3 separate regions of the Homo sapiens genome follow, and all the other regions are linked to region 3. The links come from fine-mapping of genetic effects on gene expression. A gene starts in region 3. Each other region holds a variant in brackets. All regions are shown on one strand. Distances are from middle to middle. Region 1 overlaps SHROOM2 (shroom family member 2). Region 2 overlaps SHROOM2 (shroom family member 2). Region 3 holds the start of SHROOM2 (shroom family member 2).

Region 1 (8,530 bases), 130 kb before region 3:
AGCAAAAGATGGGAACTACGATGAGTTAGGGTTGTCGGAAAGCTGGGCACTTCTTAATTTTTCCACAGAGACAATTTTTCTACCAGCCTTCCGAGATGGATGTCTACACCTCCTAGGGAATTCATGCTGACAGAGCTCCTGGTGGCTACACCTTCTGCGGCACACATGGTAACAAGAGACCAGTAATGGCAATGTACAACTAACAGAAGCCAGTAGCCACCAAAAGGCAGAACTGGCCACACAGAGGCTCCAGGTGCAAGGGCGACAACGCTAAAATTCAACACACTTGTATGTCAAAAAAGTTGAACTGTAACCACCCACTAACATCTGGAAGGCACACAGCACACGGTAGGGATGTTATCTGCAACCTAAATGACAATAATCAAGAAAGGGCTCATCTTCAGTAGGAAAATGAACACGCGCTGAAGAGTAATGTACAAAAGAAAAAACACAAATGGCTAGTCAGTGCACCAAAAAAGTCTGACTTTGCTAGTCCCTGAAGAAATGCAAGTTAAAAATGAAATAACTTTTTTGCCTATCAAACCACAGAATTTTAAAAATGTCTAATATTGACAAAGTTTTGGGAGAAGTAGGACTGTCCTGGGCGATCGGTGCCCCTAGAGTGTAAATAGTAAGCATACACTTTTTGGAGGGCAACGTGGTGATATTTTCTAGCGCCTGCCTAGCAACTCCATGCCCAGAATTTTATCCGAAGGAAATCAACATGGAAGAGCACAAGTATTTCACTACAGATATCTGCTGCAGTATTATTTACAACGTCAAACACCAACAGCAGCCCTAAATGTCCACAGTATGGCTACAGGGTTGTTAGATTTTAGAATGTCATGCACCATACACATACAAGTTACAGAAAAAGGCAGCTTACATACAGTATGTGTAATATAATTGCATGTGTAAAAACATATTTGCAAGGACTTCAAAGCAGATATACTTCCATGTTCCACAGCGGAGACTCTGGGTGATAGGATTGAGGGTGATTTGTTAATATCCTCACTCTGCTTCCCAGAACTTCTATATATTCTTAATAAAAAGGTTTTAATTAGCAAAATTGATTTTTAAAATAGGAAATGTTAATAAAAACTGTATATCACAGCCTAGAAAGCTGTAATCCCAGATTAGTATAAAACCTCATTCTCAAAAACATATGTGAAGCTTACAAAATCAGGAGTAATTTTGAATTTTGGGTGGCCCTGTGGTAAGATATATTAAAAACTAGTTAGAATAGCATATCAGCTTCATAAATTAAGAGAAAATCTCAATCTTCCTTCTATCACAATTGCACGTGACCCCAAACTGTGGAAACCTTCCATCTCAGATCATTGCCTGCCTATCTTCTAACTCAGCTGAACCAGAATCGGAAATGGATTGTTTATCCAATAGACTTCAGATATTTGTTGTACATGACATTAACTTTATATGCATAATTACTATAGAAAATGTGTGTAGTACACATATGTGTATGGGCATGTATATGTGTATACACACACACGTGTATAAATGTTGAAAATTTTCCTAGAATTTCTAGCTTTTCCACCCTTAATGGCCTCCAAGTACATTTAAGGGTCCGCCAGCTAGATTTTTTTAACGGAATAATTTTATAACAAATTTCATGCAAGTTATACCCAAGAGCACCTTGGCAGTGAGTGGCTTTATGAGGCATTACCACAAGAAGACCGAAGTAGGCTTAGCTGTCAAGGGCATTCCCATCAACAAAGCCCTGTTGACAGAAAATTGAGTTTGCTGACAGAGCTGATTTTATTTGTAAATGGATATCGAAGCTATTACCCCTGTGCGTGTGTCTCATATATATTCATATGCTTTTGTTCCTGGAAATAATGACGGCAAATGAGCAAAACAGTGCAGCCACAAATCACCCCACAGAGCTGGAAATATGACTGAAGGGAAATTTGAGTCCCTGGCTTCTCTCCCTAAGAACCAAAAATGACTACAGCTGGAAGGGACCTGGGAAATAATTTAAACTTCAAGATCAAGGTAATGGTAAACATAAAAAATAAATAATTTTTAAATAAGAAATAATTTAATCTGTGTTCCTTGTTTTATGGATGAAGAAATGGAGGGTCAGAATGCTTAGGTGGCTTCGCAAGCCACACCAACGCAGGCTGAGGAGCACACATGCTGTCTCTGCCTGATTAACGGGTTTCTGTACTTCACTCCCAGAAGTCCAAACTGAAATTCCTTCTCACTGCACTGGCAGCAAACTGGATAAGGGATGTGAAAGTTACTAAGAGAATAACTAGGAATTCTTGGGCCAGTTCTACATTCAGCCTTACCTGGAGGACCTCGACCCATTAGTCCGCAGGAGCCCACCAGACTGAAAATCAGCCATGCTGCCCCACGAGGGCTCTTCACTAACTGGTTGTGAGAATCTAGTCACCCCGCCCCCAGTTTGCTTTATTATAAAATCAAGATGGTAACCGCATAGTAGGACCCAAGGTATACATATGAAGAGGCACTGTGAACTTTCAGGAATTTTAAATAAGGTGTCGGCAAATATGTTTTAAAGGTAAATAAGTAAATAACTCTAGGACCTCTTCAGACATCCAAGGATGTCTACAAGCCTTCCAGAAATGACCCGACTGTCTTACTTGCTCTAGGAAAAGCCAGCTGGAAATCAGTGCCCGAGGACAGGGGAAAGATGGGTGGATACAAGACATCAGCTTCTTCCCACTGCTCCCCTACCCTGGTCTTCTTAAAAATTTAATGCATATGAGAGGTAAAAAATTAAAGGTAGTGTAAAGTAAATGTATTCCAAAGGCCACATAAAATATTCCCTTCCTTCCTCAACCTCCAAAATCCAAAGGCGGACTCTGGAAGAGCAGCCAGCCCATGCAAAACAAGCAGCAGTCAGCGTGCATTCACCAGGGTCATTTGTCCCTCTGGCTGGGCAATAGAGCCTTCCGCAGCCTATATGCTTGACACCAACGTGTATGGTTATTCCTAGCACTCTGTAAAAAACTCTGTGTGTGTTGTTCATGCCTCTGTAGATGAGAATTCCCCTGCAATTTTTTTCCTTAAGAGGTATGGTGTTGGTTTGGGTTGGTGGTGATCGGGGCGGGAGGGGCGGGGGGGCAGGGGGGTGGGCGCAGGTGGAGGCGGAGAAACAGAAAGGGACAAAGTATAAAATGTTTTTGCCACTATGTGTGACAAAAGAAAGAAATGTGCCTCTACCACCCATGCAATGCTTTTCCGCAATAAAATAATAAGAAATACTTGTAGAGTATGACCTCAAAGGTTCTATTCCGTAATGAAAAGAAATATGCCAACCATTCATCAACTTGGTACCAAATCTTCAGTTTTTTTATATGATACATTAAAATATTATTTTCCATTCATCTTATAAATCTTAAGACCATCTACGAGGCAGTAGGCTGTTTACTCGTAAGTGCTACCAGGTAGATTTCCAAAAACCTTTCTTCAAACTCCTTTGCCTTTTTACCTTTCAACTAGCACAACCGCTAAAAACATGCATTTCAAAATGACACCTACTCTTGTGAGTCAGTAAATGCAGACCAAAGAGACAGCCTGTGTGTGCAAACATATTTATGCATCAATTTCCCTGTGAAAATGCCATCGACCCTCTGCACACACAAAAGCCTCCTTTAGTAAAGCAAAGGCATTCCAACCATTTAGAAATATAGCCAAAACTAATCATCTCTTTCTTTTATCACAACATAAAATGGGGGAAAAAGCACATGTATAGTAAAACCCTTAAACTGTCACAATCACACCAAAGAGCAAAATAAAAGAACTGGAAAATGCTAAGAACCATGGTGATTCCATTTTCTCTATTTAAATTATCTCACTGCAATCAGCAGGCTATGTGCAAACGCACTCAGGGAACATTTCTCATGACTAAACATGCACACCTGATTTCGCCGCTTTTTTTTCTTGAGGATGTAGCTGACTCACCATTTTTTCTCAATGTCCGCATTCAATGCCTGTGTAGTGAGAATGCCTGTTTCTTACTGCTACTGAAAAACAAAAGGCAAACGAGGCAGGCAGGTCTTCATGCGATGCTGGCGTCCTCCAGCCAGCTCCCTCGGGGAACCCATCTGCAGAACTCACATGGAGCAAGGGTCCCACATACCAAGGGCTGCAGTCCCATCAGAGCAGATGATGGCTCTACGGCTTCCAGCCTAGAACACGGTGTTAAGAGCACCGCCTTCCAGTTCCAATGTGCTTTCAGCTAACCGTGAATCCCAAAGCTGTAAAAATTGCATGCATCCACGAGGACATGCAGCACCGGCGAGCATGCCCTTACACATACGTGCACGCCTGTGGAGCTCGAGCCGGAATCTGCACCCTGATTTGCATTATTTCTCATCTTCAGGCAGAAGAATAAACAATGAGAACACATTCGCCGACCTCACCAGACCTTACCCACAGCATTGTGAGCTGACAAGCAACCTGCCCTTCAAGATAGCAGAACAAAAGAGCCACTGGGAACTACAAACCCCTAACAAACGGCGCAGGCGTCCTGAAACC[G/A]GTCCCATCTGGGATGAAGTGCCCCGAGAGCAAACGCAGAGGTCCCTTACCCGGCTCTGCTTACCGTGCTGGATGGGAGTTCGCCCAGCTGTGAAGGCAGCGATGTGCTTCAGGGACCCACAGCCCGCCTCTGCTGCAGCTCTCCTCCTGCCTACTGAATGGAGTCCTAAAGCCAAGCTCACAACAGCTGGCCTGTCTGTGCCTGCTGTCTTGTTGATGGGCAAGCTCACGCAGGCTCCGTCAACCTTCACCTCCACGGCTCAAGGCTCCGCTTGCATTTCCCATCACTTCATCAGCAACTCCTTGCCTCAGTGGGGAACATTCCCAACACTTCAGTGCTTAAACCCCAAAAGTCTTGTAATTTAAAACCCCAAAAGGCTTGGGGGGCAGTCTTCCTTTATGTGTGTGTGTGTGTGTGTGTGTGTGTGTGTGTGTGTGTGTGTGTGTGTGTGTCTTGTAATTTAAAACCCCAAAAGGCTTGGGGGGCAGTCTTCCTTTATGTGTGTGTGTGTGTGTGTGTGTGTGTGTGTGTGTGTGTGTGTGTTTGGAGAAAGGATCTTGCTCTGTCTCCCAGGCTGGAGTGCAGTGGTATGATCATGGCTCACTGTAGCCTCCAACTCCTGGGCTCAAGTGATCTTCCTGCCTCAGCCTCCCAAAGTGCTGGGATTATAGGTGTGAGCCACTGTGCCCAGCACTTCTTATATTTTAACGGGGAAATATAGAAAGCCCACTGCACTGATGTTACAGCTTTCTCTATTAAGTGATGCTAGATAATCCTATAACATATGTGACACACAGTTCAACTCCACAACCATAAGGAGGAAAAAGAAAACATTCAACAGCCTATTCTATGTCCATATATTCTTGGGTTGATTACACACTCATTAGGAATGTAACCCATCAAGCAACTAACAAGCGTTTCCGGAACTTTGAGTGTGTGCAAGGCACTCAGGGAAGACAAAGGCAGGCTGGACCTGACTTTCCCAATTAACCATTTCACAATGATCTCTATTTAAAGTCCCTGAGCCCCACCTCCCTCCTAACGCAGCCCCAGACCTCAGCACCACAGCCCCTCCAGGAAGCAGCGTCGCCAGCCACTGCGCCTCACAGCCCTATCCCACCCTCCCACATCCTGGGCTTAGCCACCAGGACGGAGTTTCTCTTTCCAACCTGTTCCTGTCACCCTCTTCTACATTCATAGCAATTACTTCCAACTCTTGCTCATTTCTCCAAATAACATATGCTGCTTTGCAGCCTATACTGTATCACTGCTATTTTAGATTTTTTTCCCCCATATCGACACTTAACCTTAGGCACTGTGCTGATTCATTAATGTTATATCCCTTAAGCATGTAAATAAGTCTGCGAGCAAGGTTGCTCTGCATATCCCCATGATCCAGGGCCGTGAGGTCAGCAAGCTTGGGGGACCTGACACACTTACACTGAGAGGCAGAATGAGGATTCCAGCCTGTGTCTTCAACTCCGAAGCCCGTGTTCTTTCCAGTACTTTTCATCTTCACGTATTACTTTACCAAGTACATGTTACTGTCTCTAAGAGAGGGTGCCATTCACCCCGGGCCATCACCTTTTCTCAAATGCTCAACACATACTGCCAGGCCACACACGGAACAGCAATCAGCTGATGGCTGATTAAATATTTTATTATAGGGCTGGGTGTGGTGGTTCACGCCTATAACCCCAGCACTTTTGGGAGGCCGAGGCGGGAGGACTGCTTGAGCCCAGGAGTTGGAGACCAGCCTGGGCAACATGGCAAGACCTGGTCTCTACATAAAAATTTGTAAAAAATAAATATTTCATTATACTTTTTTTTTTTTGAGATGGAGTCTCACTCTGTCACCCAGGCAAAAGCGCAGTGGCACCATCTCAGCTCACTGCAACCTCCGCCTCCTGGGTTCAAGCAATTCACCTGCCTCAGCCTCCCGAGTAGCTGAGATTACAGGTGCACGCCACCATGCCCAGCTAATTTTTGTATTTTTATTAGAGACGGGGTTTCACCATGTTGGTCAGGCTGGTCTCGAACTCCTGACCTCAAGTGATACGCCCGCCTCAGCCTCCCAAAGTGCTGGGATTACAGGCGTGAGCCACTGCACCTGGCCAGGGTCTTGCTATGTTGCCCAGGCTGGTCTCAAACTCCTGGCTTCAAGCAATCCTCCTGCCTCAACCTCCCAAAGTGCTTGGATTACAAGCATGACCCATTGCGCCTGGCCAGCATCTCATTTTAGAATGGGTTTAGATTTACTAAAAAATTGCAACAGCCAGGCGAGAGCTCCCATATGCCCTCTACCCACTTCCCCCTATTATTAATATCTGACTTACTATGGGGTGTGTTTGTCATAGTTAATGAATCAATATTGGTACATTAATATTAACTAAAGGTCACACTTTATTCAAATTTTCTGTTTAATCAATGTTCTCCTTCTGTCTTTGAACCTCATCCAGGTACTGCATCATACTCAGGCCTGCTTCTTCAGACTCCTCTTGCTGTGAGGGTGCTATAGCTTTAGACTGAACACTTGTGCCCCCCACCCCCAAATTCCTATGTTGAAACCTAACCCCCAGGTGATGGTGTTAGGAGGTGGGGCCTCTGGGAGGTGATGAGGTCATAAGGATGGAGCTCTTGCGAATGGGATTAGTGCCCTCATAAAAGGGACCCCTGAGAGCTCCCTCTCCCCTTCCATCATGTGAGGACGCAGCAGAGAGACAGCCATTTGTGAGCCAGAAAGCACCTTCACCAGACACCGAATCTGCCAGTGCCTCGATCTTAGACTTCCCAGCCTCCAGAACTGTGACAAATACATTTCTGCTGTTTATAAATCATATAATCTTAGGTGTTTTATTATAGCAGCCTGAATAGGCTATGATAGTTTCTCAGGCTTTCCTTGTTTTTGATGACCTTAATAGTTTTGAAGAGGTCTGTTCCGGCATTTTGCAGCATGTCTCTCAATTGGGAACTGTCTGATGTGTTTTTATGATTAGCCTGGGACTTCTGGGAGAGAGACCATGGAAGTGAAGTGCCACTGTTATCCTATGATATCAAGGGGCATGCTGTCAATGTGACTTACCTGTCAACGTTGGCCCTGATCGCCTGGTGAAGTTGGTATACACCAGTTTCTCCACTGTGATGTTCCTCTCCTCGGTCCCCTTTGCCACACTGTACTCTTTGGAGGGAGCTTACTGTTGGCAGCCCACACTGAGCGGGGAGCGGGGGAGCTATGCTCCACCTCCTTAAGGGCACAGTAGCTACATAAAGTATTTGCAATTTTCTGCACAGCAGATTTCTCTATTCTTCATTTGTTAATTTATTCAACCATCCTGCGTATCAGTCTGGGCTGTGGATTCATTTTATATATTGGATTATAATCCACTACTACTTAATTTTGCTGCTTAACTTGTTCTGCCTTTGGTCATTGTTGGTTCCTGTGTCCCTATGACATACCCACACTGTTGTCACCGCTGGGTTTACATATGGGTGTATTTGAGCGCTTATTTTCTGGCACTATAAGATACTCCAGGCTCATCTTGTACAGTCCCTGCCCCAACCCTAGACTCAGTCATTCCTCTGAGGAGCCCTGGTTCCTTTTATTGGAGAAAAGCCTTAGAAAACAAGTTCTGCATGCTGGCTGTGCTCTAGGAATCCTGTTTTTTTATTTTTGTTTTTATTTATTTATTTATTTATTTATTTATTTTTGAGAGAGGGTCTCACTGTCACCCAGGCTGAAGTGCAGTGGCACCATCATAGCTCACTGCAGCCTTGACCTCCCAGGCTCAAGCGATCCTCCCAATCCAGCCTCCCAAATAACTGGGACTACAGGTGCACCACCATGCCCAGCTAAATTTTTTTTGTAGAGATGGGGTCTCACTATGTTGCCCAGGCTGGTATTGAACTCCTGGGCTCAAGCAATCCTCTCAGCCTCCCAAAGTGCTGGGATTATAGGCATGAGCCCCTGTGCCTGGCCTAGGAATCCACTCTTAAAGGAGACCC
Region 2 (8,530 bases), 31 kb before region 3:
GAAATAAATCCACCTTCCCAGACCAGGTACCAGGGGCAGAGTTCACAATAAGCTAACAAAAAGCCACAACTGCTCCCATTTTCCACATTTACCCCCTCCTTCTTGCAAAGTACCCCAAGCAAGCTCAGGCTGTAGTTTGAAAAACTTCCCTGACGCCTCCCCCACGTCCTCTACTGGTTCAGAGAAGTGCTGCTTTAGAAACTGGTTCCGATTTCAGTGTGTATAAAACCATCTGAGCCAGTTGTTAAAATTCAGGTCCCTGGGTCCCAGCAACCGTGATTCCGAGGTTTTGCACATGCTAATTAGAATACAAATGGCAGACAGGCCACATCTCTGTAGAGCAGTTGTACAGAGAACTGCTCTGCTGTGTGGAGCCAGCATTAGCATCACCCAGATGATTCCTAACTTCTGGTTTGGGGTTCGGTAGGTCTAGAGTGGGGTCCAAGAATTTTCATCCCTACCAAGTTCCCAGGGGATACTGATGCTGCTGGTCTGGGAACCATACTTTGAAAACCACTGCTTACCAAGGACAGCAAGCCCCAGCCAGGATGCCAATTACTGCTCAATGCCTGCTTTTGTAAATAAAGATTTATTGGCACACAATCCTTTCATTTACATACTGTCTACAGCAGCGTTCATGCTATACAGCACAGAGGAGTAATTTGGCCCACAGAGCCAAAAATATTTACTCTCTGGCCCTTTACAGAAGTCTGCTGGCCTCTAGTTTGCAGAGGATCATCCAAACATTAGAAATATCCTGACCATGTCTATTGTCAAATTGAGACTTCTGGTACTTCATACAGATTTCAGAGAATGGAGGACGTGGAATTTTATTAAAACCTAAGGATTTTTTCAAAAGAAAAAGGAAGGCCAGGTACAGTGGCACACACCAGTAATCCTAGCAATTTGGGAGACCAAGGCAGGAGGATCACTTGAGCCCAGGAGTTTGAGACCAGCCTGGGCAACATGGTGAGAACTCATCTCTAAAAAAAACCTTTTTAATTAGCAGGGCACGGTGGTGCACCTGTAGTCCCAGCTACTTGGGAGGGCTGAGGTGGGAGGATTGCTTAAGCCCGGGAATTCAAGACTGCAGTGAGCTATGATTGTACCACTGCACTCCAGCCTGGGTGACAGAGCAAGACTCTATTTAAAAAAGGGTGGGGGAGGAATGCAGGCTGCTTCTAGAAGCTGGAAGCTGGCTGTGGCTGGAGCAAAGAGGGTGGGAAAGGATGGAGGGAGGGCCACATGTTGAAGACCCAGTTACAGAAGCCTCTGTGGGCCATAGGATGGTGCCAGCTTCAGTCGACATATGATGAGACTCTACTGGACAACTCTTCATATTTACAAAAAAAAAAAAAATACTGCAATAAAATAAATCTTGAGGCTCGAAAAACATAATCTGAAAAAAAAAAAAAATTTTAAAGGTGGAGGGAGCCAGGCACGGTGGCTCATGCCTGTAATCCCAACACTTTGGGAGGCCTAGGCAGGCAGATCACTTGAGGTCAGGAGTTCAAGACCAGCCTGGACAACATAGTGAAACCCCATCTCTACTAAAAATAAAAATTAAAAAAATTAGCTGGGTGTGGTGGCAGGTGCCTGTAGTCCCAGCTACTCAGGAGGCTGAGGCAGGAGAATCGCTTGAACCCAGGTGGCGGAAGTTGCAGTGAGCCAAGATCACGCCACTGCAATCCAGCCTGGGCAACAGAGCGAGACTCCCTCTCAAGAAAAAAAAAAAAAAAAAAAGATAAACTGGCAGGGTGGACTCGACGTGATGCCTGCTAGGAGCAAGGTGACAGGGAAGCATGAAGGACAGCGCTTTTCAAGCGTGGGAGAGCAGGGAGGCCTTCACCAGAAGAGCTTTTGCGCAGCCATTAGTACCTGTATTGGGGAAACATAGCATACAAGCAAGACGCTTACAGCCTCAGTGGTGAAAATGTTTTCACATTAGAGACCGAGAACTTTTGCAGTTGTTTATGTCATCCCTTCTTCTCCAGACAGAAGATATAAAAAAGCTGCAATCAAAGATCTCTTCATCTTATTGATAAAGCCACCAATAAGCCAAAATGTCTGTCAACGTCAACCCCAGCATATCAGACCAGTTCTATTACAAGATGCCCTGTCTGATTGCCAAGGTTGAGGGCAAAGGAAATGGAATCAAGACAGTTATAGTCAACATGACTGACACTGCAAAGGCGCTTAATTGGCCTCCAAGGTATCCCACCAAGTATTTTGGTGGGATACATTGTTACATTGTGAATGGATCTCAGGAGGCCAATAAGCTGCAAGACATATTGGATGGACTCATTAAAAAATTTGTTCTCTGTCCTGAATGTGAGAATCCTGAAACAGATATGCATGTCAAGCCAAAGCAGCAAACAATAGGTAATTCTTATAAAGCCTGTGGCTATCGAGGCATGCTTGACACACATCATAAACTCTGCACATTCATTCTCAAAAACCCACCTGAGAATAGTGACAGTGGTACAGGAAAGAAAGAAAAGGAAAAGAAAAATATAAAGGGCAAAGACAAGGAAAATGGCTCCGTATCCAGCAGTGAGACACCACCACCAAAGAAATTAGCCCTCCTCCACATACAGTGGAAGAAGAGGAGGATGACTGGGGGGAAGATACAACTGAGGAAGCTCAAAGGTGCAGAATGGATGAAATCAGTGATCATGCAAAAGTTCTGATACTCCATGATGATTTGGAAAAAACAGTTGAGGAGCGGGCCAACATCCTGTTTGATTTTGTGAAGAAAAAGAAAGAAGAGGGTATCATTGATTTATGTGACAAAGAAATTGTTACTGAAGCAGAAGGACTGGATGTTAAAGCCATGGGCCCTCTTGTTCTGACTGAAGTTCTTTTTAAAGAGGAGATTAGAGAACACATAAGAAATACAGGCACCATTTCTTATGATTTTGTCACAACAACAAAAAAGCTCAATGGTACCTTCTTCATGGCTTTACGTGTGGGGTAGCAATGCACCAAGCTCAGCTTATCTCTAAGATTCCAAATATCTTGAAGGAGATGTATGATGTAGATTTTTTAGAAGAAGAGGTCGTCATCAGCTGGTCGGAAAAAGGCCTTTAAGAAACATGTCTCAAAAGAACCTGCCAAAGAGATTCGTGTCAAAGTAGAACCATTTATAAAATGGAGGCAGAGGAAGAATCTTCTGGTGGTGAAGAAGATGAAGATGAGAACATTGAGGTGGTGTATTAGAAGACTGCCAGTGTACCTAAAGTTGAAACTGTAAAGTCCAACAACAAGGATGATGACATTGATATTGATGCCATTTAATGGGATGGATACAACCTAGCTTAACATTGTAATGCTGCAAATTCTTCTCCGTTACCAGCCAGCACAACATGTATGCGCAAAAGCTAAAATGGCTTAACATCAAGCTACACTATACACTAAAAATCCATTACTGTGAGTGGTCTGTAATTAAGCTCAATGAGACATCCAGGGAGTCCATACACACATCAGTGAGCAGATGTAGTTTGCTTATTTATAGCATGTTTCTTTTTGAAAAACTGGTGGTGGACACATTTGGATCACATTTATACAGTTATAAAAATAAAGATTTGATTTTGGCCATTCTTCAGATATTTGGCTCTGAATGACTTAAGCTGAAGTATCTGGCTCCATTTTCAAATGTTACATCATCGTTTCACCTGATGAGCATTCTTGGAGGCTGCTAGATATTGTTAGGTACTGAGGCTGTAAAGAGGTCTTCAACAGGATGTAAGGCAAACTTATTTGTAATTACCTTATTCAGCCCATTAAGAAATAGTACTACATAAGTTTTATCTCTAGTCCCTCCAATTGGCATCTGGTAATGTACACTGCGAGGTAGACTGATAACCAAATGACAGTGCAACATCCTACTGAGAAGTAAATATGACCTGAGTGTCCTAGAAATAATTTAACAGCAGGTTTTGAAACTTAGAGAGTTGTTTTCTCATTTCATGTATACTTGCCCTAAATTGTAGTCTTTGAAGTCGTGTGCACTGCACGTTGGGTGAGCCAGGGAAGTTATTACATTAACAACCATTTTGTGTGTACGCAGTAGTTGCTTCGTACTGAGAGAACTTGCTTTGGGGTACAATTAAAAAATAAACTGATTTTATTTGGGGGAAACAGGGAAGGGTGCACTTACTAGTAAACCTAAGCATTAATTTTCAGCTTTTGCCCTTATGATTTAAATTACAATTCCAAAATGTTTAGACATACTGAAAAAAAAAAAAAAAGTTAGAGGGAGGTTGGGTGTGGTGGCTCACACCTATAATCTCAGCACTTTGGGAGGCCGAGGTGGGTGGATCACTTGAGGTCAGGGGTTTGAGACCAGCCTGGCCAACATCGTGAAATCCTGTCTCTACAAAAAATACAGAAATTAGCTGGGCATGGGTGACGGGTGCCTGTAGTCCCACCTACTCAGGAGGCTGAGGTAGGAGGATCACTTGAGCCCAGGAATTGAAGGCTGCAGTGAGGCAAGGTCACACCACTGCACTCCAGCTTGGGCAACAGAGCAGGACAACGTCTCTTAAAAAAAAGAAAAAGAAAAATATTCAACAGAAAACCTTACAAACCCTACAATGTTATGATGAAGATACTGCCAATGTCCCCTAAATCTGGAAAATTTAAGTTTGTTGAGGGATCCCCCTATAGCACGGGTTTCTGAAATATAACCAGAAATGATGAAGAGGTGAAGGTTTTGATTTTGGTCTGAAGCTGTGTTGTTGCTGGGAAGTGAAGGAGTGGGAAATGACAAGAGAGCAGCTCATGTCTAAGGGGGGACACCGTCCCGAGCACTATCACCCTTGGGCTACAGGGACCCCGCTCGCTGTCTGAACCCCAGAATCAACCCCATGTCCACTTCGCAGGGAGGGTGAAAGACTCCCATGCTCCTGCTCAGAAAGTAGCAGCAGCAGCAGCAGCAGCAGCAGCAGCAGGGGGTAAGGCTGAGCTAACCACAAACTGCCACCACAAGGACCACAAGGATGCCGGTGACCAGGCATGTCTTCCTGAAGGCTCAGCAGACATGCTGACCACCTCTGTCGGAGCCCTGCAGGGGCCCACACCCACCGGGGTCAGGACAAAAATCCTATGACCTTTGAAATTGTGAGTTTTAATTTTGCTTCAACAGCCGTGAAGCCAAAATGACCAATCCTATTCTTTTGATTCATCAGGGATGC[G/T]CCACCCATGTGCTCAGGAAATCACAAGCGCTATGCCTGGGGCACTGAGGTTAAAAAGCTTGAAACACAAGGAAAATACTCAGGAGAATTGAAAACTTGTCCACACAGCAGCATTATTTACAAGAATCACAAAGGAGAACCACCCACATGTCCATCAAAGGATATGAACAAAACGCAGTCCATTCCCATAGGACAATAGCATTCAGACATGAAAAGGAATGACTGATACACACTACAACATGGATGAATCTCCAAACATTATACTGAGATAAACCAGACACAAATGACCACATATTCTACGATCCCACTGACATGAAATGTCCAGAATAGGCAAATCCGTACATAGTAACTGTGATGGTTAATACTGAGTGTCAACTTGACTGGATCGAAGGATACAAACTACTGATCCTGGGTGTGTCTGTGAGGGTGTTGCCAAAAGAGATTACATTTGAGTCAGTGGGCTGGGGAAGGCAGATCCACCCTTAATCTGGTGGGCACAATCTAATCAGCTGTCAGCAAATATTAAGCAGACAGAAAGACGTGAAAAGGAGAGACTGGTCTAGCCTCCCAGCCTACATCTTTCTCCCATGCTGGATGCTTCTGCCCTCGAACATCAGACTCCAAGTTCTTCAGTTTTGGGACTCGGACCAGCTCTCCTTGCTCCTCAGCTTGCAGATGGCCTACTGTGGGACCTTGTGATTGTGGGATGTAATACTTAATAAACTCCCCTTTATAGATATAGATATAGATATAGATATAGATATAGGATATAGATATAGGATAGATATAGGATATATATATATAATGGATCTCTATATATGATATATACATATGAGATATATAGGAGATATTATATACACACACACACACACACACACACACACACACACACACACACACACATAATATGTATATCTATCCTATTAGTTCTGTCACTCTAGAGAACCCTAATACAGATTTTGGTACAAAGAGTGGTTCTAGAGGAACAGAATATTAAGGATGAAGTTCTTTTGTGGGTTGAGGTTTCTGGAGTTGCCTGCTTAATATGATTAGACTCCAAAATGCTAAGGACTCCACTTCTCATAGTATGGAGAACACTGATAGTCCTTGGCATAAACCATTTAGAGAGTTATGCAAAATAAATGCATTTGACACTCCTGATTCACTGCTCATGAGAGGCAAGGAGTTTAGTGACTCTATACATAATACCTTTGACCATATGTGGAAAACCAAGGAATATAATGAAGTTGGTTGGTTGCTCCTAAGTTCAGTGGGCAAAGTGATGAAAGAAAATGATGAACTTGGGGATTCTGTCTCCCGGCTTCAAAAGCAGATACTGAGCCTCAAATCTGCTAAGATTGCCCTGAGTGAGAGTCTTATCTCCTGTAGAGAAAGAGCTGAAATTGTGGAAAAACAGACACATGCTCTTATCATGCGAGGGGCTGACCTTCAATGAAAGATGCATGCACAGCCTCGCCAGGTGTCTACTGTTAAAGTGAGGGCATTGATTCGAAAAGAATAGGACCCTGCAACTTGGAATGGGGACGGTGAGGGAGAACCCTGATGAAGCTGGGGACACTGAGTTTGTAAACTCCGATGAACCTTTTTTGCCAGAAGGAACAGCTTCCCCATCCCCTGTAATGGCAACATCCCTTCCCTGACCCATGGCTGCCATCAGCCTTTCCACCTTTGTCTGAGGAGATAAACCCTGTGCTGCCTGAGGCAACAGTGATGGCCTCCCCTGAGGCAATTGCCAGGCAAAATATGTTGATTCTTCTCAGGAGCCACCCCCGACACCCCTGTTTGCTTCTAGACCTATCACTAAAGTCCCAGCAGGCCCCTAGAGGTGAGGTTGAGAATGTGACCCATGAGGAGGTGCGCTACACTCGAAAAGAACCATTTGAGTTCTATAATTGATATAAACAGAAATCTTGGAGAACAGGCATGGGAATAGATATTAAGGGTATGGGATAATGGTGGAAAGAACACAGAGTTGGATCAGGCTGAATTTATTGATTTGGGCCCACTAAGTAGGGACTCTGCTTTTAATGTTGCAGCTGGGGAGTTAAAAAAAGGTTCTAAGAGTTTATTTGCTTGGTTAGCTGAACTATGGATTAAAAGATGGCCCACTGGGAGTGAGCTGGAAATGCCTGATCTCCCTTGGTTTAATGTAGAGGAAGGGATCCAAAGGCTTAGGGAGATTGGGATGGTGGAGTGGATTAGCCACTTTAGACCTACTCATCCCAGCTGGGAGGGTCCAGAAGACATACCCTTAACCAATGCCTTGCAAAATAGATTCGTGAGGGCAGCACCTGCATCTTTGAAGAGCCCTGTAATTGTTCTTCCCTGTATGTCAGATCTAATGGTGGGAACTGCAGTCACGCAACTACAAAATTTAAATATGATGGGAATAATTGGATCCCGAGGTGGCAGGAGCCAAGTGATGACACTCAACCGTCAAAGGCAAGGTGTGCGTAGCTACCATAATGGACAGCAGAGGCAAAGCGGCAATCAGAATAGTCTGACTCGTGTACAGCTCTGGCACTGGCTAATTAATCATGGTGTTCCTAGAAGGGAAATCGATAGGAAGCCTACTGCCTTCCTACTGAATTTATATAAGCAGAAAACTTCTGGGTCGAATGGACAAAAGACTAATTTGAATTATAAAAACAGAGAATCACAGCCCCTCAATCAATTTCCAGACTTGAGCCAGTTTACAGACCCAGAATCCCTTGAATGAAGAGGAGGCCAGGTCCCCTTGAGGAAGGACCCCACTACATTACGAACAATTTATGTGGTGACTCTTTCTCCCATCCTTCCCCAATGAGACCTCTGGACTTTAGCCAGGGTAACTGTGCATTGGGGAAAGGGAAATGATCAGACATTTTGGGGACTACTGGACACTGGCTCTGAGCTGACGTTGATTCCAAGGGAGCCAAAACGTCACTGTGGTCCTCCAGTTGAAGTAGGGGCTTATGGAGGTATGGTAATTAATGGAGTTTTAGCTCAGGTCCGACTTACAGTGGGTCCCCAGACTCATCCTGTGGTCATTTCCCCAGTGCCAGAATGCATAATTGGCATAGACATACTCAGCAGCTGGCAGAACCCCCACATTGGCTCCCTGACTGGTAGGGCGAGGGCTACTATGGTGGGAAAGGCCCAGTGGAAGCCATTAGAGCTGCCTCTACCTAGAAAAAGAGTAAATCAAAAACAATGTCACATCCCCAGAAGGATTGCAGAAATTAATGTCACCATCAAGGACTTGAAAGACACACGGGTGGTGATTCCCACCACATCCCCGTTCAACTCTCCCATTTAGCCCGTGCAGAAGACAG
Region 3 (8,530 bases):
TAATTCACAGGCTGGGAAAAGGTAATAAAGATAGACTTGAAAGCCAGTTGGCAAGGCGGGCCTACCAACTGAAAGGGTCTTTCAGCACAGGAAAGAAAGCTCACCTCTTGGTTTTTAACCTTACTATTAATTCTTAAATACAGATGGATCTTTATAATGACACTTATCCTAATAGCTGAAGAAAACATGGTAGCTGGCATCAAAAAGTGAGTAAAGCTTTACAACTCGGACATCACTTAGAGATGGCAGAGGCAAGGGAGATCCAAGCCCTCACCCACTGGTTCTCAGACACCTGGAGAAGCAGCAGCACTCCCTCGTGCAGATGTTGACCGCACACTGCATCTGGGCACAAAAATCCACCAGCAGCCACAAAGTTGAGAGTCACCCGCTCCTGACCCACTGCTGAATTCATCAGGTCCCTCTTTTTCAAAACCTTTACTGATATTTCACAAAGAGCTTGGTTGGCTCTTGGGAGCCAATATAATGGCATATGAGACAAGAACTGATCCCGACCAGGGTGGTCACTCTGATCTCCCCGGTCCTCGGGTCACGAGGTGACTTGGCATGGCCCATAATGCAGAGCCCCCTTTCCAAACCAATAAGTAAGGTACATCAGAGGCGCGGGGCCTCCACTCCTGCCCATCACCAACCACCAGTCTCAGCCCTGTGCCCTCTGCAATCAAGGACTCAGCTAACACTTTACATAAGACACTTGCCACCTGGCTGCACGCCCCCCAAAATATGCCCTGATTCCGTCTTTGGCATTCACACTGGAAAGGACATTTCAAAGCTCTGTCTCCAATCCAGAGAAATGTTCTCAGAGTCTGAAGCCCTGGGGTGGGTGAGTCAGGTGGGGGGGACCTCCAAGCGTCCCAGACCACAGCAGTCTTGTCGCACACAACAGCTCTGGTGCCCAATGGCAACCCGAAAATCAATGGGTTCCCAAAGGAGCTGCCCTTGGGGCTAGGCCAGGCCCAAGTTACTGTCTTCTTTGGAGCTTCGGGCTAAGGCTTCTGGCATTCTTTTTGGGGGAGGGAGCGGACTCTAAGAAATAGTGAACAGGAGAGGCTGGGGCTTCATTCCTTCCCTCCCTTAACAAACATTCCTGAGGCCACAGGGGGCTGCTGACACCCAGCTGGTGTATTTAACGCTTCCTCATGAATCCCCCAAACAGCTTTGTGGAATTCAAGCCACTCTAGTGACATTTTAGAAATCAGTCCCCTCCCCTCCCCCCACTGAAGACTTCCACTGGTTGAATGGATGGGAACAGAAACATGCAAAAAACCCACCAGGATCACATATATCCACCATCTCTACTTCCGTTACATAGATTCCTACAGCATGGATGTTATTCCTGCCCCCTCTCTAACAACAGCATGGAAATATGGGTTTGAGTGCATTTTTTCCACCAACTGTAGCAAAATTTCAAGGCAGAAATCAGCAGAAACGTACTGAGGAGTGATGAATCCTGTCGCCATCTGTCAGCGGAGGTTCTGCTGGGCTTCATGCATGCACCCCAAATTCCAAGAATGCTACTCCTCTGAAGTTGGTATCCCTTTAGCTTCAAACTAGACCCAGAGAGTAGTCAGTCCTGATTCTGAACAGCCACTGTGGATGCCCATAAAACACAGCACTTGGGAGTTCCTGCTTCAATTTCCTTTCTCCAGCTACAAAAAATGCAGATGAAGCAAGTATTTGTTTGAGTTTGACTATGTAAATAAAGCCTATTCTCAGGGCCAACGCGTGGGAGGAAAACAGCTCTCCATGCAAACACTGGCAATGCCAGAGGCCTCTAAACACACCACCCTAAAGGCCAGTCTATTCAAAAAGAAACAGAAGTTTTAAGAGCAAGAATCCTTTAAGAGCAAAGGTGATATATGGTTAATCTAACAAAAGAGATTCAAAACCAGGCTAATTTTGCCCCCAGAGGACATTTGGCAATGTCTGGAGACATTTTTGTCATCACACCTGGAGAGAGGTGACAGTAGCATCAAGCAGGTAGAGGCTGGGGAGGCTGCTGAGCATCCTCCAAAGCACAGGGCAGCCCCACAGCAAAGAGATTCAGCTCACAAAGTCCCCAATGCCAAGGCTGGCAAACCCTCACCTAACCGATGTGACGAAGGTATTCAATATGGCATTGCAGGAGATCCCAGACCCAAGCAGATGGCACTGACTGAAGGGGAGCAGCAGGCTTGAACACTGGGGCCAGAGTCTGATTCTTAGGGCCTTTCCCAGGACTCAACAGTTTGTGACCTCAGGATACACCATTTGCCCTGCCTGGGCCACAGCTGTTTCATCTATAAAATGGGCTGATAAAATTCCATCTGAAGACCAGGACCGAACCAGCCTTGTTCTTGACACCCCTCCCAGTTCTACTACACGCACTCCCATGAGGCTTTCAAATGATACCCTCATTATCATAAAGAGAAGGTGCGCTCTTACCTTAATGCAAGCTATCCCCAAATCAGAGTCTGCTAAATAGCAAGTGAGTTGTACAGTATTCCAGGGCTCTAATATGTAACTATTTAATTACAAGTGGAAAAAAAAAAACGATTAGAAGAGCTATTTTTTAATGAGCCCCAGTGACTTTTCAGTAGCTTTTGGGAGAGGAAGATTCAAAGCTTGGATTAATCCACATTCTGAGCCAAGCGCAGTGGCTCATGCCTGTAATGCCAGGACTTTGGGAGGCAGAGGAGTTCGAGACCAGCCTGGGCAAAATGGTGAAACTCCCCGTTTCTACAAAAAATTTTAAAAAATTAACCAGGCATGGTGGCGCACATCTGTGGTCCCAGCTACTCAGGAGGCTGACAGAACAAGACCCTGTCTCAAAAAAAAAAAAGAAGAAAGAAAGAAAGAAAAGAAAAGAAATAAAAGAAAAAAAAAAGAGGAGTGTTCTGGCTGGGCAGAGTATACACACTTTATGACTGTCCACCATGTTTCCAAAGAAGCCAGTGTGATAAAAGATTACACATTGGTCAAATTTATAACAATGGCAACCTCTTTCCTGAGTTCAACAAAAATTTAGTGCAAAGCTAAACAAGGCTTCTCCAAATCCCTCCACAAAGTTTTGTAATCATAAAAGCGACAGAAAATATAGAATGGAAGACGCTGGTGTCTCATTTGCTATTTGAACAACAAAGCCATCCCACTTCCCAAACTGATTACCAGTGCGGCGGGTTAGGAATCACTTAATTTCTTCCTGCTGTGGAGAGGCAGGAAAGCCGAGAAAACCAGTAAATTATCTTCAAACGCTTCTAGTCGCCAAGAATCTTTACATTTTAAAAGGAACTTCGTCCACACGAAAGGTCCGACTCAACCCTTCCCAGAGAAAATGACCACTACACACTTTTAACTAGAACACAGGGTGACTGGACTGTTGTTTATGTGTTTGCTTTTACAAGTTCATACAGGTTCAACTGGTAAGTTTCCAGATGGATTTTGTTTTGAGACAATAAAATTCAATGTTCTAAAGCAAACCACACACACACACACAACATTCCTGATGAGATACATCTGGAATTTCTTTATTATTATTAGAACTCGGGTCCTGCTCTTAGGAAGCAGGCTTTCAGGTTTCTCTAAGTTTGCGCAGGTATCCAGTGCGCAGTGGATCTGGGACTGGAAGCCGAAAGTCAGTAAACATTGATGGGCTGAAGGGAATCGAGAAGTTGCGCTGGCGACAGCTGCTACTCTGGATTTCGTAGTGATCACAGGCACGGGTCCAAGGGGTGCCGAACCAGGGACCCCAGAGAGGCAAACATAGGTGGGGACGGCTCGGGGACACGTTCCTTCGCTGGCCTCCAGGCAGCCCCGCAGGTGCAGGCCGCCACTGGCGGGCCCGGGAGCGCCAGAGGACCCGGCCAGGCCCCTGCCCGGAGGAGGGAGGGGGAGGGGAAAGGGACTCCGGGCAGGAGCCATTTAAACTCTGCGAGGCGCGGGGAACCGCCAGGATCACACGCCCACGCCGGTCCCGGCGCCCAGGCCCGGCAGGTGACCCCAGCAGACGCGCGCGCCAGACCCGGGGGCGCGAGCCTACCGCCCCTCCCGCGCCCCTACCTCGACGCGCCCCGCAGGGCGGCCAGCTCCCGGCTGTCAGCGCCCGCGCCCCGCGGCCGCCTTACCTTGGTGATGACCAGCGGCTCGCCGTGCTCGCGGCCGCCCTTCAGGGTGAAGCCCCACGGGGCGCCGCCGCTCAGCTGCACCTCCACCAGGCGCCCGCCGTCCGCCGCCCGCGTCTCGGCCTCGGCCAGGCGCTCGGGCCGCGCGCGGGGCTCGGCGCCCTCCATGGCGCGACCGCTCAGCGTCCCTGGCCCGCGCCCATGCACTCCGGGCAGTCCCGGCCGTGGGATCGCAAGGGAGGCTCCGAGCGCCGCAGAACTTGCGCCGTAACTTGGAAAGAAAGTGCCGGCCCGGCGGCGGAGGGAGCCCGGAGGGCTGGCGGGGAGGGGGCGGGGCCGGGGCCGGGGCCGGGGCCGGGGCTGGCGGGGAGGGGGCGGGGCCGACGGGGGGCGGGGCGGGCGCGTTCGGGAGCTCGTACCGCGGGGCCGGTCACGGGGAGCGCGTCCAGAGGTCCAGCCCGCGGCCCGAAGGGTGAGGGACGGGGTCAGGTGCGCGCTCAGGGGCCCACGCGGCCGCTCGTACCGGGGAGAGCTGGAGAGGGGCGCGCCCCGGTTCTCTCGCCCGGTGGAGGGGAGCGGGCCGGGAGGGGCGCTCAGGCGCGCGCGCCGTTCAGCGGGTTCGGGGTCGGGGTCGAGGAGCGCGCGCCCCGGGGCTGGCGGAGCCAGCGCGGGCGAGGACGGGGGCGGAGGCCCCGGCGCCAGGTCGGGCCTTTCCTCCCGCGCCAGAGCTCTGCAGTGCTTCGAAGCTCTGGGCGCCCCCGCCCGCCGGTTGGAGGCCAGGACCGGGCAGGTGAGGCGGCAGGTGAGATGGGCGCGGGGTGGCGTGGCGGGAGTCTCCGGCCTCCTCCGTCTCGGGGCGCGCGGCCCGCCGGCGCCCACACTTTGTTCTCGCGCACCGCGGGCTGCCGCGCAGGTGAGAGCGGAAGCGCCGCGGGAGGCCCTGGTGCCCGCGCTGTGGCCGCTGCCCCGGGGCAGAGGGACCGCCCGTCCCGCGCGGCCCTGCGCGCACTCACACTCTGGACTTAGAGAGCCGGGAAGGGCGCCCCCCAGCAGCCTGAGCCGGGCGCGGGTCCGGCCTCTGGAGGGGCTTGGAAGGCGGGCGCAGAAGGACCGTGCCCCGTTTCCACGAGGGCCTTCCCACCTTCCCGCAGAGGCCTCCCACAGCCACCGCGCAGAAAGCCGTTGCGTCTAGATGCTGTCCCCACTCGCCTAGGATTGGACCACAAGGTCTTCAAGTTTCCCAGGTTTACATCCCCGAAAAGGGGAGGTGGAGGTCTGGGATTGGTGAAAGTTTGCGGACAACATGTGTGCCACCTCTTCCTGCTCGGTTTCAGTTTCCATGAAACTCTGGTCTAAAGTACCTGCATGGATAGGTATTTACATGCTTTGCAAAAAAGCTGTTTTCGTTGCTGTTTCTATACGTAGCTGAAGGCTGGTGAACACCTCTTTTCTCTAAGCAGCTCCATCCAGGCCCTTTTCAGAGGTGACGATGCTGGAGTACGCATCCAGGACAGGCCGGGAGAGCACTGGACAGAGAGTCAAGGGTCCCCGGGTCTGGGTTCTGCCACTGTCAAGCTGGGACAAGAAATCTCAGCTCTGGTCTGTTTCTTCAGAGGTCAAGTGAGAGGGGTGCATTCTGTGGAGGTGTCTCATGCAGCCGATTAAATTCAGAGTCGCAGCTCCACTGGGCACCTGTCATGGCGCTGGGCACGTGGTGACTGCCCCATAATTAACTTCTAACTACAGTCTCTGAATGCCTTTAGTTAGAAGAATGAGGCGATTTTTTCTTTTTCAAAGATTAAACGAAGGCTTAAGGAATGTGCCTCTCAGAATCAAGTCGAGTGTATCTTCACTGTGGTGATGGTCACAGGAGCTGCCAAGTTGATTAAGCTAAATTGCACAGAACTAAATGCACGTGAAACGGGAAATCTGAAAAGGCTTGGTGGATTGTATCAATGTCCATATTCCAGGTTGTGACATTGTGCTGTAGTTTTGTAACGTGTTGCCATTGGAACAGGCAGGTGAAGAGTGAAGGGTGCACAGGACTTCCCTGTATTATTCCTTACCAAGAGGCGAAGCCAGTTGGGTGGGGACTCCGAGAATTTTTCTGTCTTACAAGAGGATTGTAAAATGCACCAATCAGCGCTCTGTGGCTAGCTAGAGGTTTGTAAAATGGACCAATTAGCACTCTGTAAATGGACCAATCAGCGGGATGTGGGTGGGGTCAAATAAGGGAATAAAAGCTGGCCACTGCAGCTAGCAGTGGCAACCCGGTCCAGTCCCCTTCCATGCTGTGGAAGCTTTGTTCTTTCGCTCTTCACAGTAAATCTTGCTGCTGCGCACTCTTTGAGTCTGTGCCACCTTTAAGAGCTGTAACACTCACAGCAAAGGTCTGCAGCTTCATTCTTGAAGTCAGCAAGACCAAGAACCCACCGGAAGGAACCAACTCTGGACACATTACAACTACATGTAAATCCAGTTATCTCACAAAGTTTAAGAAATGGATGGATATGATAAACCAAAAGATAAAGAGCTGTATAAATATACCCAGTGTGCTTATTAGAGTTTGCAGACATGTCCGTCTCCCAAAACAGCCCACTCCCTACCTCCCCACCCCAAGCTGGTATAGACTTCAGTCTAAGCTCTTACCTGGGGCTAAAATTCAGACCACTAGACTCATTATAAAGCAGAGACAGTGATTTCATTGTCTCCATAAATCCAGCATTATTCTATATAGCCCCAAAGTCATCTTTAACATTTTATGTTCACCGTACGTAATCATTGTCAGATTACCCATCTGCCACTTGAAAGGTTTATACTTTTTAAAAGGACTCCCTTGTTCTTAAACTTAGCTAGAAATTTACATCCATCCTTACTAAACAGTGTTTAGCTGGGGTGTTTTGTTTTTTTAATCTTCACATTAAGCATCCATCTCAGGATGGTTGGAATATTTATAAGGCTGCTGTCTATAATGATGTTATGCTGTAAGGGACTGAACCAAGATTTGTGTGGCCTGCTATGAGACAGGTGCCTGCTCAGTCATAAATCCTTTTGTGATATTCTTGGGGTTACTATGGTCTAGGTGCGATGACAGCACTTCTATATTGTGTTTGTTTTGTCATCACAAGACACTGTCAATAATCTTGTGAAAATATATCTTGTGGCTGAAAGGCATCACCCCAGTTGATCAGTCTTGCACCCCCATTGGGAGAGTTTTAGTATGACGTTGAACCAGTGTATGGACTCCTAGTAGATGGCTTTCTTTTCTGAGAACTCACAACTCAGGTGGAATTTTCAGAAGCAGAATCCATTTGTCCATGTTAGTCTTTTGTCCTTTTGGAAAGCTGAGGGGCATGTTTGTTCTGTGTAATTTCTCACTGTGGTTGTTCATTGCTCAGAGAATAGGGTGAGCATATACTCTCTTCTGGACCTGCAAGGAGTGTGACCCTATGAGCGCCTGCCCCGGGGATTCAGTAGCCTTAGGTGTTTGTTTCACTTTTTCTTTTTCTTTTCTTTTCTTTTCTTTTTTTTTCTCTTTTTTTTTTGAGACAGAGTCTCACTGTGTCACCCAGGCTGGAGTGCAGTGGCACGATTATGGCTCACTGAAGCTTGACTGCCCCAGGCTTAGGTGATCCTCCCACCTCAGCCTCCTAAGTAGCTGGGACTATAGGCATATGCCACCATGCCTGCCTAATTTTTTATTTTTTGTAGAAACAGGATCTCACTAAGTTGTCCAGGCTGGTCTCAAACTCCTGGGCTCAAGTGATCCACCCACCTCAGCCTCCCAAAGTGCTGGGATTACAGGCATGAGCCATTGTACCTGGCCACTGTTTCTTTTTCTTTTTTTCTTTTTTTTTTTTGGAGACGGAGTTTTGCTCTTGTCGCCCAGGCTGAAGTGCAATGGTGAGATCTTGGCTCACTGCAATCTCTGCCTCCCAGGTTCAAGTGATTCTCCTGCCTCAGCCTCCCAAGTAGCTGGGATTACAGGCATGCGCCACCTTGTCCAGCTAATTTTTGTATTTTTAGTAGAGATGGGATTTCACCATGTTGGTCAGGCTGGTCTCAAACTCTTGACTTCAGGTGATCCACCCGCCTCGGCCTCCCAAAGTGCTGGGATCAGGCGTGAGCCACCGCACCCAGTCCCCGGCCACTTTTGCTAATCTGAGGTTTATTTCCTATGAGAGAAGAGATAGATGAAACTGAGGATGGTTCTGCTTTCACTTCGTCAACAGTGAATGAATTAATTAATGTAAGGCAAATTAACCAACGTTCAGAGACTTCATTAATAGCTAATCTTCTTTATGAAATACAGCTCAAATTATTTTAGCTTTTTGTTCTAAAAAGAAAAGAGATTTATACTCATTACAAAATGTGGTAGAAGATGGAGTTCCAAAATTTTACTTTCACATTTC

What was found. PIP is the estimated chance that this variant, and not a neighbour inherited with it, causes the effect.
Region 1: its variant is fine-mapped to the expression of SHROOM2 in sun-exposed skin (GTEx, PIP above 0.99).
Region 2: its variant is fine-mapped to the expression of SHROOM2 in left ventricle (GTEx, PIP 0.97). The same link has a PIP of 0.9 or more in visceral fat.

The regions. Positions count from the first base shown.
Region 1 is chrX:9,908,649-9,917,178 of GRCh38, reverse strand. The region is part of intron 5 of SHROOM2 (shroom family member 2); the gene reads right to left. Among named protein-coding and RNA genes, the nearest start is that of CLDN34, 54 kb to the left of the region's middle. The variant G/A (reference allele first, on the strand shown) is at 4,528.
Region 2 is chrX:9,813,003-9,821,532 of GRCh38, reverse strand. The region is part of intron 1 of SHROOM2 (shroom family member 2); the gene reads right to left. It also overlaps the pseudogene EIF5P1. Among named protein-coding and RNA genes, the nearest start is that of SHROOM2, 31 kb to the right of the region's middle. The variant G/T (reference allele first, on the strand shown) is at 5,196.
Region 3 is chrX:9,782,302-9,790,831 of GRCh38, reverse strand. It overlaps SHROOM2 (shroom family member 2), which reads right to left and starts at 4,403. Exons shown (of 10, transcript NM_001649.4): 1 at 4,122-4,403. The coding sequence starts at 4,286.